Regions from separate parts of the Homo sapiens genome. Here region 2 is linked to region 1. The links come from fine-mapping of genetic effects on gene expression. A gene starts in region 1. The other region holds a variant in brackets. All regions are shown on one strand. Distances are from middle to middle.

The links. PIP is the estimated chance that this variant, and not a neighbour inherited with it, causes the effect.
Region 2: its variant is the best candidate, but not a certain one, in a credible set for the expression of RFXANK in whole blood (TOPMed, PIP 0.80).

Annotation. Positions count from the first base shown.
Region 1 is chr19:19,189,288-19,194,287 of GRCh38, forward strand. RFXANK (regulatory factor X associated ankyrin containing protein) reads left to right here and starts at 2,971. Exons shown (of 10, transcript NM_003721.4): 1 at 2,971-3,267; 2 at 3,673-3,813; 3 at 4,652-4,846. The coding sequence starts at 4,660. BORCS8-MEF2B (BORCS8-MEF2B readthrough) reads right to left here and starts at 2,865. Exons shown (of 12, transcript NR_027308.2): 1 at 2,794-2,865. It overlaps BORCS8 (BLOC-1 related complex subunit 8), which reads right to left and starts at 2,865. Exons shown (of 6, transcript NM_001145784.2): 1 at 2,794-2,865. The coding sequence starts at 2,830. RefSeq lists an enhancer at 3,748-3,837.
Region 2 is chr19:19,217,999-19,223,512 of GRCh38, forward strand. NCAN (neurocan) reads left to right here. Exons shown (of 15, transcript NM_004386.3): 3 at 917-1,318. Among named protein-coding and RNA genes, the nearest start is that of NCAN, 8.8 kb to the left of the region's middle. The variant A/G (reference allele first, on the strand shown) is at 3,051.

The DNA.
Region 1 (5,000 bases):
GGTCCAGGCACAGCGAGGCACGGCCATCTCCTGCCTGGATGCCAGATCCACCTTCTCCCTGGCCTCTCTGCTTCCCCTGCTGCCAACAGTTCAACCTCCATGCAGCACGTGAGGCAAACTCCAAATGAACAAATCATCTATTCCCACCCTTGCTTTAAACTCTTCCATAGCTCCCACCTGCCAGAGAATAAAATCCGCCTTTCTTGCCCTGCATGTTCTGGCTGCTCTTGACCTCCCTGCCTTCCTTGCCCTCCACCCCTGGCTCTTCCTTGGACCTCCCAGCACTGCCCAGAACTTTCTCACTGCCCGAGAGGACAAGGTAGGAGGATCACTTGAGGATAAGAATTTGAGACCAACGCCGGGTGCGGTGGCTCACGCCTGTAATCCCAGCACTTTGGCAGGAGGATGGATTCAGCCTAGGAGTTCAAGACCAGCCTGGGAGACATGGCGAAACCCCACCTCTATAAAAAATTGCAAAAATAAGCTGGTCATGGTGATCTATACCTGTAGTCCCAGCTACTCAGGAGGCTGAGGTGGGAGGACTGCTTGGGTCTGACAAGTGGAGGCTGCAGTGAGCCATGATCATACCACTGCACTCCAGTCTGGGCAAAAGAGTGAGACTCTGTCCCAAAAAAAAAAAAATTAAATGCCCGTATGTGACCAGTTGCTCCTTTATTCATTACAGCAGAGCTCTAAACACTTGGTCACCTCAAGGCCTTTGCACTTGGTATTCCCACCTGGAGACACCATTCCGTCACTGGCTCTCCTTCATCCCTCAGGTCTGCTCAAATGTCACCTCCTGGGCAAGACCCTCCCTGACTACCAAGCTTAAAAGATGACCCCTCCACCTCACGGAGGACCTTGGCAGGCATTTTGTTCCTTTCTCTTAATACCAATTTCAACTGATTAGGTTACATGTTCACAGGAAAAGTTAAAAGCTTGGACTTGGGAGAGCAGAGCTTCTCTGAGCCTCAGCTTCCTCATCCACAAAAAAAGAATAACAGCACCAGCCTCAAAGTTTGCTACAGAGATGAATCCAATGCCATCACCAGGGTGACTGCTCAGGAGAGAGAACCCAGGCGTGTCTGGGAGTCAAAGGAGGCTAACACAAGTCTCTCCATCTCACCACTGTGCCTTGAGTGGCAGAGCCCAGCCTGCCACCTCCAAACTGTGTGACCTCTTACCAGATAGGCCTCCTCGCTTTGAATGTGAGCATAACGGCCAGGGGCGGTGGCCCACGCCTGTAATTCCAGAACTTTGGGAGGCCGAAGCGGGAGGATCACCTGAGGTTGGGAGTTCGACACCAGCCTGACCAACGTGGAGAAACCCCGTTTCTACTGAAAATACAAAATTAGCCAGGCATGGTGGTGCATGCCTGTAATCCCAGCTATTCGGGAGGCTGAGGCAGGAGAAACACTTGAACCCGGGAGGCGGAGGTTGCCGTGAGCCATGATCACGCCATTGCACTCCAGCCTTGGCAACAAGAGCAAAACTCCGTCTCAAATAAAAAAAAAGAAGAAGAAAGGTGAGCATAACAGACAAGGCACGGTGGCTCATGCCTCATACTCATGCCCTCCGTTATCCATGGTTCCCGAATCTGTGGATTCAACCAACCGTGGATGGAAAATAGGAAAAAAAAAATTCCACAAAGTTTCAAAAAGCAAAACTTCAATCTGCCCTACACGAAGCACTTCTTTGAATCCATGTGAATGAAGTGATGTGTAGGCCTGTATTATGTATTCTAGATGTGAGTAATCTAGGGTGATTTAAAGTATAGGGGATTAGCTGGGTGCAGTGGTTCACACCTGTAATCCCAGCACTTTGGGAGGCCAAGGTGGGTGGATCACTCGAGGTCAGGAGTTCGAGACTAGCCTGAGCAACAAGGTGAAACCCCGTCTCTACTAAAAATACAAAAAAATTAGCTGGGCATGGGGGTGTGTGCCTGTAATCCTAGCTACTCAGGGGGCTGAGGTTGCAGTGAGCTGAGATCCCCCCACGGCACTCCAGCCTGGGTGACAGAGCGAGACTCCGTCAAAAAAAAAAAAAATTAAAGAATTAGCCTGATGTGGTGGTGTGCACTTGTAGTCCCAGCTACTGGAGAAGCTGAGGCAAGAGGATCGCCCGCGCCAGAGAGATCGAGGCTACAGTGAGCCATGATCGCGCCACCGCACCCCAGCCTGGGCGACAGTGTGATACCTTGTCTCAAAAAAAAAAAAAAAAAAGGAAACAAGACGCACAGCGATTACTACGCCCCGGGGATTCTTCCAATGCATTACAAATATCAGGTTGTTGAGTTTTTTTTTTTTAGACAGGGTCTCACTTGTCACCCAGGCTGGGGGTGCAGTGGCACGACCGTAGCCCACTGCAGTGCAGCCTTGACCTCCCGGGCTCAAGCAATCCTCCCACCTTAGCCGCCCAAGTAGCTGGGACCACAGGCGTGCGCCACCACGCCCGGCTAATTTTTGTATTTTTTTAGAGACGAGATCTCACTATGTCACCTAGGCTGGTCTCGGGCTCAAGCGATCCTCCCGCCTAGGCCTCCCAAAGTGCTGGGATTACAAAGCCACCACTCCCAGCCTCAGCTACTGAATTCTTGAAACAATCCTGGGGGGACCGGTAATTAAAGCAGACACGGAGCCTTTCTACAGGTTTCAAAACTAGTCAGCGGCAGAGCTGGGATTGGACGGCAGTTCAATCACTGCTCCTCGCACGGTCCCTCCGCGCCCGGCCTTTGTCAGGCCGCCCCTCCACAAGTTACCGGCCCCCTCTGTCCCGCCCGCAGGCCCGCACCACCTTTCTTCCCCTTGAGCTGCATCTCCGGCTCCTCCATAGCGACCGCGGCCGAGCGAACCGGGAAACGGCACCGGAAGCCCGGAGGTTGGGACGCCCGCCTAAGCCTTCCCTGCTGAAACCGGACGCCGCACGGCTCCTGTTCCGGTGTCAGAGGGCCCGCCCTCCCCGCTCCTCAGTCTTTGCGGACAAGAAAGGGGCTGTGTGAGACGCAGGGAAGGAGGCACACCCGGGGGTGGCGCAGTGAGGAGGGGGCGCGACGGCCAGGAGGCTGGTGGAGCGACACCCAGGCAGGAGAGGGGGAAGAACTCTCTCCCTTTCTGAACCCCCTTTTCCTTGAGAGACGAGTTGGGGGAGTCCTCCACGCATTACCCACTCGGGCCGCAAAAACTCCCTTCTTTAGCCCTCTGCCCCCGCCCTTGCTTATAAGCCTTTGAGACCGCAGAAGGGACCTTGTTGTGGAACGGGACGGCCAAGGTACGCTGCCCCTTTAAGTTCCAGACGCCCCGCGTACTTCCCCTACTTCTTCTTCTTGAGATAGCCCCGCCCATCTACCCGAAGCCGGAGCCAATTGGCTCCCTCTGGAAAAATCTGTGGGCAGGGTAAAGGTGAGCGGGCGCAGGCGTAGTGAAATTCTCAGAGCCCTTTAGGCCCCGCCCATTCCCTCCGAGTCGGTGAGGAGGGGAAAAGAAGGCGCAGGCGCAACTGCCCTCCCAGGACCCCAGCGGAACCCACGCCCTCCCCTAAGTCTTAAAGGGCCAGAGGCAGCACTTACTGCCCGGGCCCTTCCTCACTTTTGGGGGGCGGGGGTGCGCAAGCGCAGTGGGGGAGCTCTGGGGTGGGGGTAGCGGTCGAGTATCAAGTTGCTTTCTGTCCCGGCAGAGGAAGCCAGATCGCTGAGGGTCCGGTCTCCAGTTTGCCTCCTGCTATATCCATTGGAAGAGAAAAGTTTGTGACTTGGGCCCCCAAGTTTTGAGAGAACTGGGCTTTCGGCGCGGGGGGACAGAGGAGGCTCGTGGGGAGGTGAGTGGACCTCCTGGATCGATTTAGGAGGCTCGGGTGGGACTGGGACCAATCGCACCTTTGTTGAGCCGTCACTCATTATGGGGAGCCCCTCCCAACAACCATAGCGAATATTTATTGAGCTCCACGCTTAGCAGATCCCCCGATAAGCTATGTACAGACATAATTCGTTGTAGGTCTCATTTCCACATTTTGTCGTGGAGGAAACTGAGGCTCAAAGGTTAAGTCACGTGCCCAAGTTCTCACGGCCTATAAATTGAGGGATTCGAACCCAGACAGCTGACCCCAGAGCCCCGGCTTTTTTTTCCTTTCTTTTTTTTTTTTTTTTTTTTTTTTGAGACAGAGTCTTGCTCTGTCGCCCCAGCTACAGTGCAGTGGTGCGATCTCTGCTCACCGCAACCTCCACCTCCCGAGTTCAAGCAATTCTGCCTCAGCCTCCCGAGTAGCTGGGATCACAGGCGCCCGCCACCGCGCTTGGCTAATTTTTGTATTTTTAGTACAGATGGGGTTTCACCATGGTGGCCAGCCTGGTCTCGAACTCCTGACCTCATGATCCACCCTCCTCGGCCTCCCAAAGTGCTGGGATTACAGCCGTGAGCCACTGTGCCCTGCCAGAGCCCAGGCTCTTAAACATTGCACATTGTAGGTGCTTTGGTGGTGGGGAATGGTAGACCTCGAAAGCAGTTGGACTCTGGTTTTCATTTCCCTGGCTCTGGTAATTAACCTGGACCTCAGTTTACCCACCCTCACAGTGCAAGGCTAGGTATGCAGTCGGTGCCTACTTTATTATAACTGTTGATAATTATTGTCATCTCTCCCCTTCTGACACCTCCGCCAGCTTTCCCCATGGAGCTTACCCAGCCTGCAGAAGACCTCATCCAGACCCAGCAGACCCCTGCCTCAGAACTTGGGGACCCTGAAGACCCCGGAGAGGAGGCTGCAGATGGCTCAGACACTGTGGTCCTCAGTCTCTTTCCCTGCACCCCTGAGCCTGTGAATCCTGAACCGGATGCCAGTGTTTCCTCTCCACAGGGTAGGATACCTCCTCTGGGATTAGCCCTCTGGGATTCCATGATGATGGAATGTCAGGCCTCACATGGAACCTGTGTCTTGCTTTCGTTTTTGTTTTGTTTTGTTTTGTTGTTTTTTGAGATGGAGTTTTGCTCTTGTTGCCCATGCTGGAGTGC
Region 2 (5,514 bases), 29 kb after region 1:
CTGGGTGTAGTGGCTCACCCCTATAATCCCAGAACTGTGGGAGGCCAAGGTAGGTGGATCAGTTGAGGTCAGGAATTGGAGACCAGCCTGGCCAACATGGTGAAACCCATCTCTACTAAAAATGCAAAAATTAGCCAGGCGTGGTGGCACACACCTGTAATCCCAGCTACTGGGGAGGCTGAGGCAGGAGAATTGCTTGAACTTAGGAGGCAGAGGTTGCAGTGAGCTGAGATCATGCCACTGCACTCCAGCCTGGGAGATGGAGCGAGACTCCATCTCAAAAGTATAAATAAATAAAAGAATAATAATAATAAGGGGCTGGGCACAGTGGCTCATACCTATAATCCCAGCACTTTCGGGAGGCTGAGGTGGGAGGATTGCTTGAGTCTAGGAGCTTGAGGCTGCAGTGAATCATGATCATGTCACTGCATTCTACCCTGGGCGATAGAGTGAGACTCAATCTCTAAAAATAGTTTTTTGTTTTTTTTTTTGAGATGGAGTTTCGCTCTTGTTGCCCAGGCTGGAGTGCAATGGTGCGACCTTGGCTCACCGCAACCTCTGCCTCCCGGGTTCAAGCGATTCTCCTGCCTCAGCCTCCTGAGTAGCTGGGATTACAGGCATGTGCCACCACACCCAGCTAATTTTGTATTTTTAGTAAAGACAGGGTTTCTCCATGTTGGTCAGGCTGGTTTCAAATTCCTGACCTCAGGTGATTTGCCCGCCTTGGTCTCTCAAAGTGCTGGGGTTACAGGCATGAGCTATCGCGTCCAGCCACTGCTTGGATTCTGAGGTCAAGTGGCCCTAGGTTCAAATTCTGGCTCAGCCCTTTTAAAAAATTTTTTAAAAGAGGGAAATAGCAGTCCCTGCTTGGTTCTTGCCTCTGAATCAGGCCCTCTCTCCACCTTCTCCAACCCAGGCACACAGGATATCACCGATGCCAGCGAAAGGGGGCTCCACATGCAGAAGCTGGGGTCTGGGTCAGTGCAGGCTGCGCTGGCGGAGCTGGTGGCCCTGCCCTGTCTCTTTACCCTGCAGCCACGGCCAAGCGCAGCCCGAGATGCCCCTCGGATAAAGTGGACCAAGGTGCGGACTGCGTCGGGCCAGCGACAGGACTTGCCCATCCTGGTGGCCAAGGACAATGTCGTGAGGGTGGCCAAAAGCTGGCAGGGACGAGTGTCACTGCCTTCCTACCCCCGGCGCCGAGCCAACGCCACGCTACTTCTGGGGCCACTGAGGGCCAGTGACTCTGGGCTGTACCGCTGCCAGGTGGTGAGGGGCATCGAGGATGAGCAGGACCTGGTGCCCTTGGAGGTGACAGGTCAGTTGGGGGCAAAGGAGGGGCCGGGGGCCGGGGAGAGGGAGGGCTGAGCCTGGAGCCCACCCACTGAATGTCACCTTAGAAATCACTCCCTGAGACCTGGCCTGGTGTCTCATGCCTGTAATCCCAGCACTTTGGCAGGCCAAGGCGGGTGGATTGCTTGAGCACAGGAGTTCGAGACCAGCCTGGGTAACATGGTGAAACCTCGTCTCCACAGAAAATACAAAAATTAGCCAGGCATGGTGGCACATGCCTGTAGTCCAGCTACTTGGGAGGCATAGGTGGGAGGATCACTTGAGACTGGGAGGTTGAGGCTACTCCACTCCAGCCTGGATGACAGAGGGAGACCCTGTCACAAAAAAAAAAAAAAAAAAAAGGAAAGAAATCACTCTCTGAACCGGGATTCCCTTTGAATTCTTCTGATAAAGTCCTAAAGTCTTTATGGTGCCTATAATCTGAGCACTTTGGGAGGCCGAGGCGTGTGGATCAGTTGAGGTCAGGAGTTTGAGACCAGTGTGGCCAACATGGTGAAACCCCGTCTTTAAAAAAAAAAAAAAAAAATTAGCCAGGCATGGTGATGCATGCCTGTGATCCCAGCTACTTGGGAGGCTGAGGCAGGAGAACTGCTTGAACCCAGAAGGTGGAGGTTGCAGTGAGCTGAGATTGAGCCACTGCACTCCAGCCTGGGCCACACCGCGAGACTCTGTCTCAAAAGAAAAAAAACGTCTGTATCAGTATGGGTACTATCTTGTCTTTAACACCTCTCTTTTTTAGCTATGAGAGAGGAGTCTCCAGCTCAGACTTCTGGGGGCCACAATATCTAGGCAGGATTTTTGTTTGTTTGTTTTGAGATGGAGTCTCACTCTTGTTGCCCAGGCTGGAGTGCAGTGGTGCTATCTAAGCTCACTGCATCCTCCGTCTAGGCAGGATTTTACTTGGAGTCAATTTTATGGTTATCTGATTTTATGTAAGACAAAGGATACTGGCTTTCTATTTAAAATAGAAATAAAAAATTCCTTGTAAAATAAACTTAAGTTTTTTTCTAAGTGAGGCAATTTTTTAAAAGTAAGTTAATTTAAGATGTATATTAAATATTAAGCAAGAACAATTCTCAAATACCTGTTTAGGCAATTCTTTTTTTTTTTTTTTTTTTTTTTTGAGATGGGAGTCTCGCTCTGTCTCCCAGGCTGGAGTGCAGTGGCATGATCTCAACTCATCGCCAGCTCTGCCTCCCGGGTTCACACCATTCTCCTGCCTCAGCCTCCTGAGTAGCTGGGACTACAGGCGCCCGCCACAGCGCCTGGCTAATTTTTTGTATTTTTAGTAGAGACGGGGTTTCACCGTGTTAGCCAGGATGGTCTTGATCTCCTGACCTCGTGATCTGCCCACCTCGGCCTCCCAAAGTGCTAGGATTACCAGGCATGAGCCACCGCACCTGGCAACCAATTCCTTTATTAAATTCTTCTTGTTGAGCTGCGTGTGGTAGTGCACACCTGTAGTTTCAGCACTTTGGGAGGCTGAAGAGGAAGGGTCACTTCAGCCAGGAATTCAAGACCAGCCTGGGAAACATAGCAAGACCCTGTCTCTATTAGAAAAACAAAAACAAACAAACAAACAAAAAACAAAAAACGGGGATGGGGGCCCAGTGGCTCATGTCTGTAATCCCAGCACTTTGGGAGACCAAGGCAGGAGAATCACTTAAGCTCAGGAGTTTGAGACCAGCCTGGGCAAC[A/G]TAGTGAGACCTTGTCTATACAAAATTCCAAATTCCAAAACATTAGCCAGGTATGATGGTGTGTTCCTGTAGTCTTAGCTACTCAGGAGGCTGAGGTGGGAGGATTGCTTGAGTCCCAAGAGATCGAGGCTGCAGCGAGCCTTGATCATGCCACTGCACTCCAGCCTGGGCAACACAGCAAGACCCTGTCTCAAAAATAATAATAATATGGCTGGGCGCAGTGGCTCACGCCTGTAATCCCAGCATTTTGGGAGGTCGAGACGGGTGGATCATGAGGTCAGGAGTTCGAGACCAGCAGATCATGAGGTCAGGAGTTCGAGACCAGCCTGGCCAAGATGGTGAAACCCCTTCTCTACTAAAAATACAAAAATTAGCCAGGCATGGTGGCACATTCCTGTAACCCCAGCTACTCGGGAGGCTGAGGCAGGAGAATCGCTTGAACCCAGGAGGTGGAGGTTGAGGTGAGCCGAGATTGTGCTATTGCACTCCAGCCTGGGCAACAAGAGGGAAACTCCATCTTAAAAATAATAATAATAATAATAATACAACTAAATAAGCCAGATGTGGCGGCTCACACCTCTAATCTCAGCATTTTGAAAGACTAAGGCAGGAGGATTGCTTGAGCCCAGGAGTTCAAGACCAGTCTGAGCAAGATGGTGAGACCTCGTCTCTACAAAATTTTTAAAAAAATATTAGCAGGGCATGCTAGTGTGCGCCTGTAGTCTCAGCTTGTCAGGAGGCTGAGGTGGGAGGATCGCTTAAGTCTGGAAGGTTGGAAGCTGCAGTGAGCTGAGATCGCACCACTGCACTTCAGCCTGGGTGACAGAGGGAGACCCTGACTCAAATAAATAAATAAATAAATAGTCAAAAACTAAAAATAAAGAACAGGGTTTGGCACACAGTAGATGCTCAATAAATGACTCAGTGAATGGATTATTGTACAGCAAACATCCCGTGGACTCCTGCTGGGAAACCTGTTTCCCTTAACTTAAATTGACCTTGGGCAAGTCCCTGATTCCTGTCTTGGGGCTTAACCTGCATGCCCCCAAACTGGGAACTGGGGACACAGTGTCTTACCACATAGTTTATGGAGTCAACCAGTCATCCCCTTTCAGAGGCCTCATTTCTGAAAATTGATAAAAGCTAACAACAACAACAACAACAAACTGATTGGTGGTGAGGCAAGTGAATTCCACATCTAGGTAACTTCAATTTCATTCATTCAGCCAAACTCTTTTTGTTGTTGTTTGAGACAGAGTCTCACTCTGTCACCCAGGCTGGAGTTCAGTGGTGTGATCTTGGCTCACTGCACCTCTGCCTCGTGGGTTCAAGCGATTCTCCTGCTTCAGCCTCTGGAGTAGCTGGGATTACAGGTGCACACAACCACACCTGGCTAATTTTTGTATTTTTAGTAGAGACAGGGTTTCACCACATTGGCCAGGCTGGTTTCCAACTCCTAGCCTCAAGTGATCTGCCTGCCTCGGTCTTCCAAAGTGCTGGGATTACAGGCATGAGCTGCTATGCCCGGACATTCAGCCAAACATTTATTGAGCACCTACACTGTACTGGTCCAATGCTGAGGACACAGAGCTCTCAGTTGGATAAGCCAGAGCAAAGTGTTTCATTTCATTGTCTTGTTCAGCCATTTCTTTCATCCCTAAATCAGAATTTGAATCACAGTGAGCCTGTTACCAGGGCTTCACATCCTGGCTTACATGTCACCTCCTCCAGGAAGCCTTCCAGGACCACATTTCCAGGCCAGGCAAGAACCACATTTGGGCCGGGCGCGGTGGCTCATGCCTGTAATCCCAGCACTTTGGGAGGCTGAGGTGGGCGGATCACGAGGTCAGGAGATCAAGACCATCCTGGCTAACATGGTGAAACCCCATCTCTACTAAAAATAGAAAAAAATTAGCTGGGCGTGATGGCAGGCGCCTGTAGTCCCAGCTACTTGGGAGGCTGAGGCAGGAGAATGGTGTGAACCCGGGAGGCGGAGCTTGCAGTGAGCTGAGATCGCGCCACTGCACTGCAGCCTGGCGACAGAGTGAGATTCTGTCTCAAAAAATAAATAAAATAAAATAAATAAAATAAAAAATAAATAAATAAATAAAAAAGAACCACATTTGGTCTCCCATTGCTGCCTGTGCTTCCCTATTAGCGCATGCACTTAATTCCTAAAAGGCAGAAACTCTCTGTCAGCCTTCTCCACACCTCCTGCCACCTCCAGGGCCTAACCCTGGGCATGAAGAGTGCTATCTTTGGAGTCAGATCTCTCTGAATTTGAATTCTGGTTCTGTTTCTTATTTGCTGCGTGGGCCTGGACCTGTCCCTCAACCTTTCTGACCCTAAGTTTCCTCCTCTAGAACAATCAGATTTGTTGTAAGAGTTCAATAAGATAATGCTTATAAATGCTTTTCTTTTTTTTAATGTTTTAGTTTTTTTGAGATGGAGTCTTGTTCTGTCT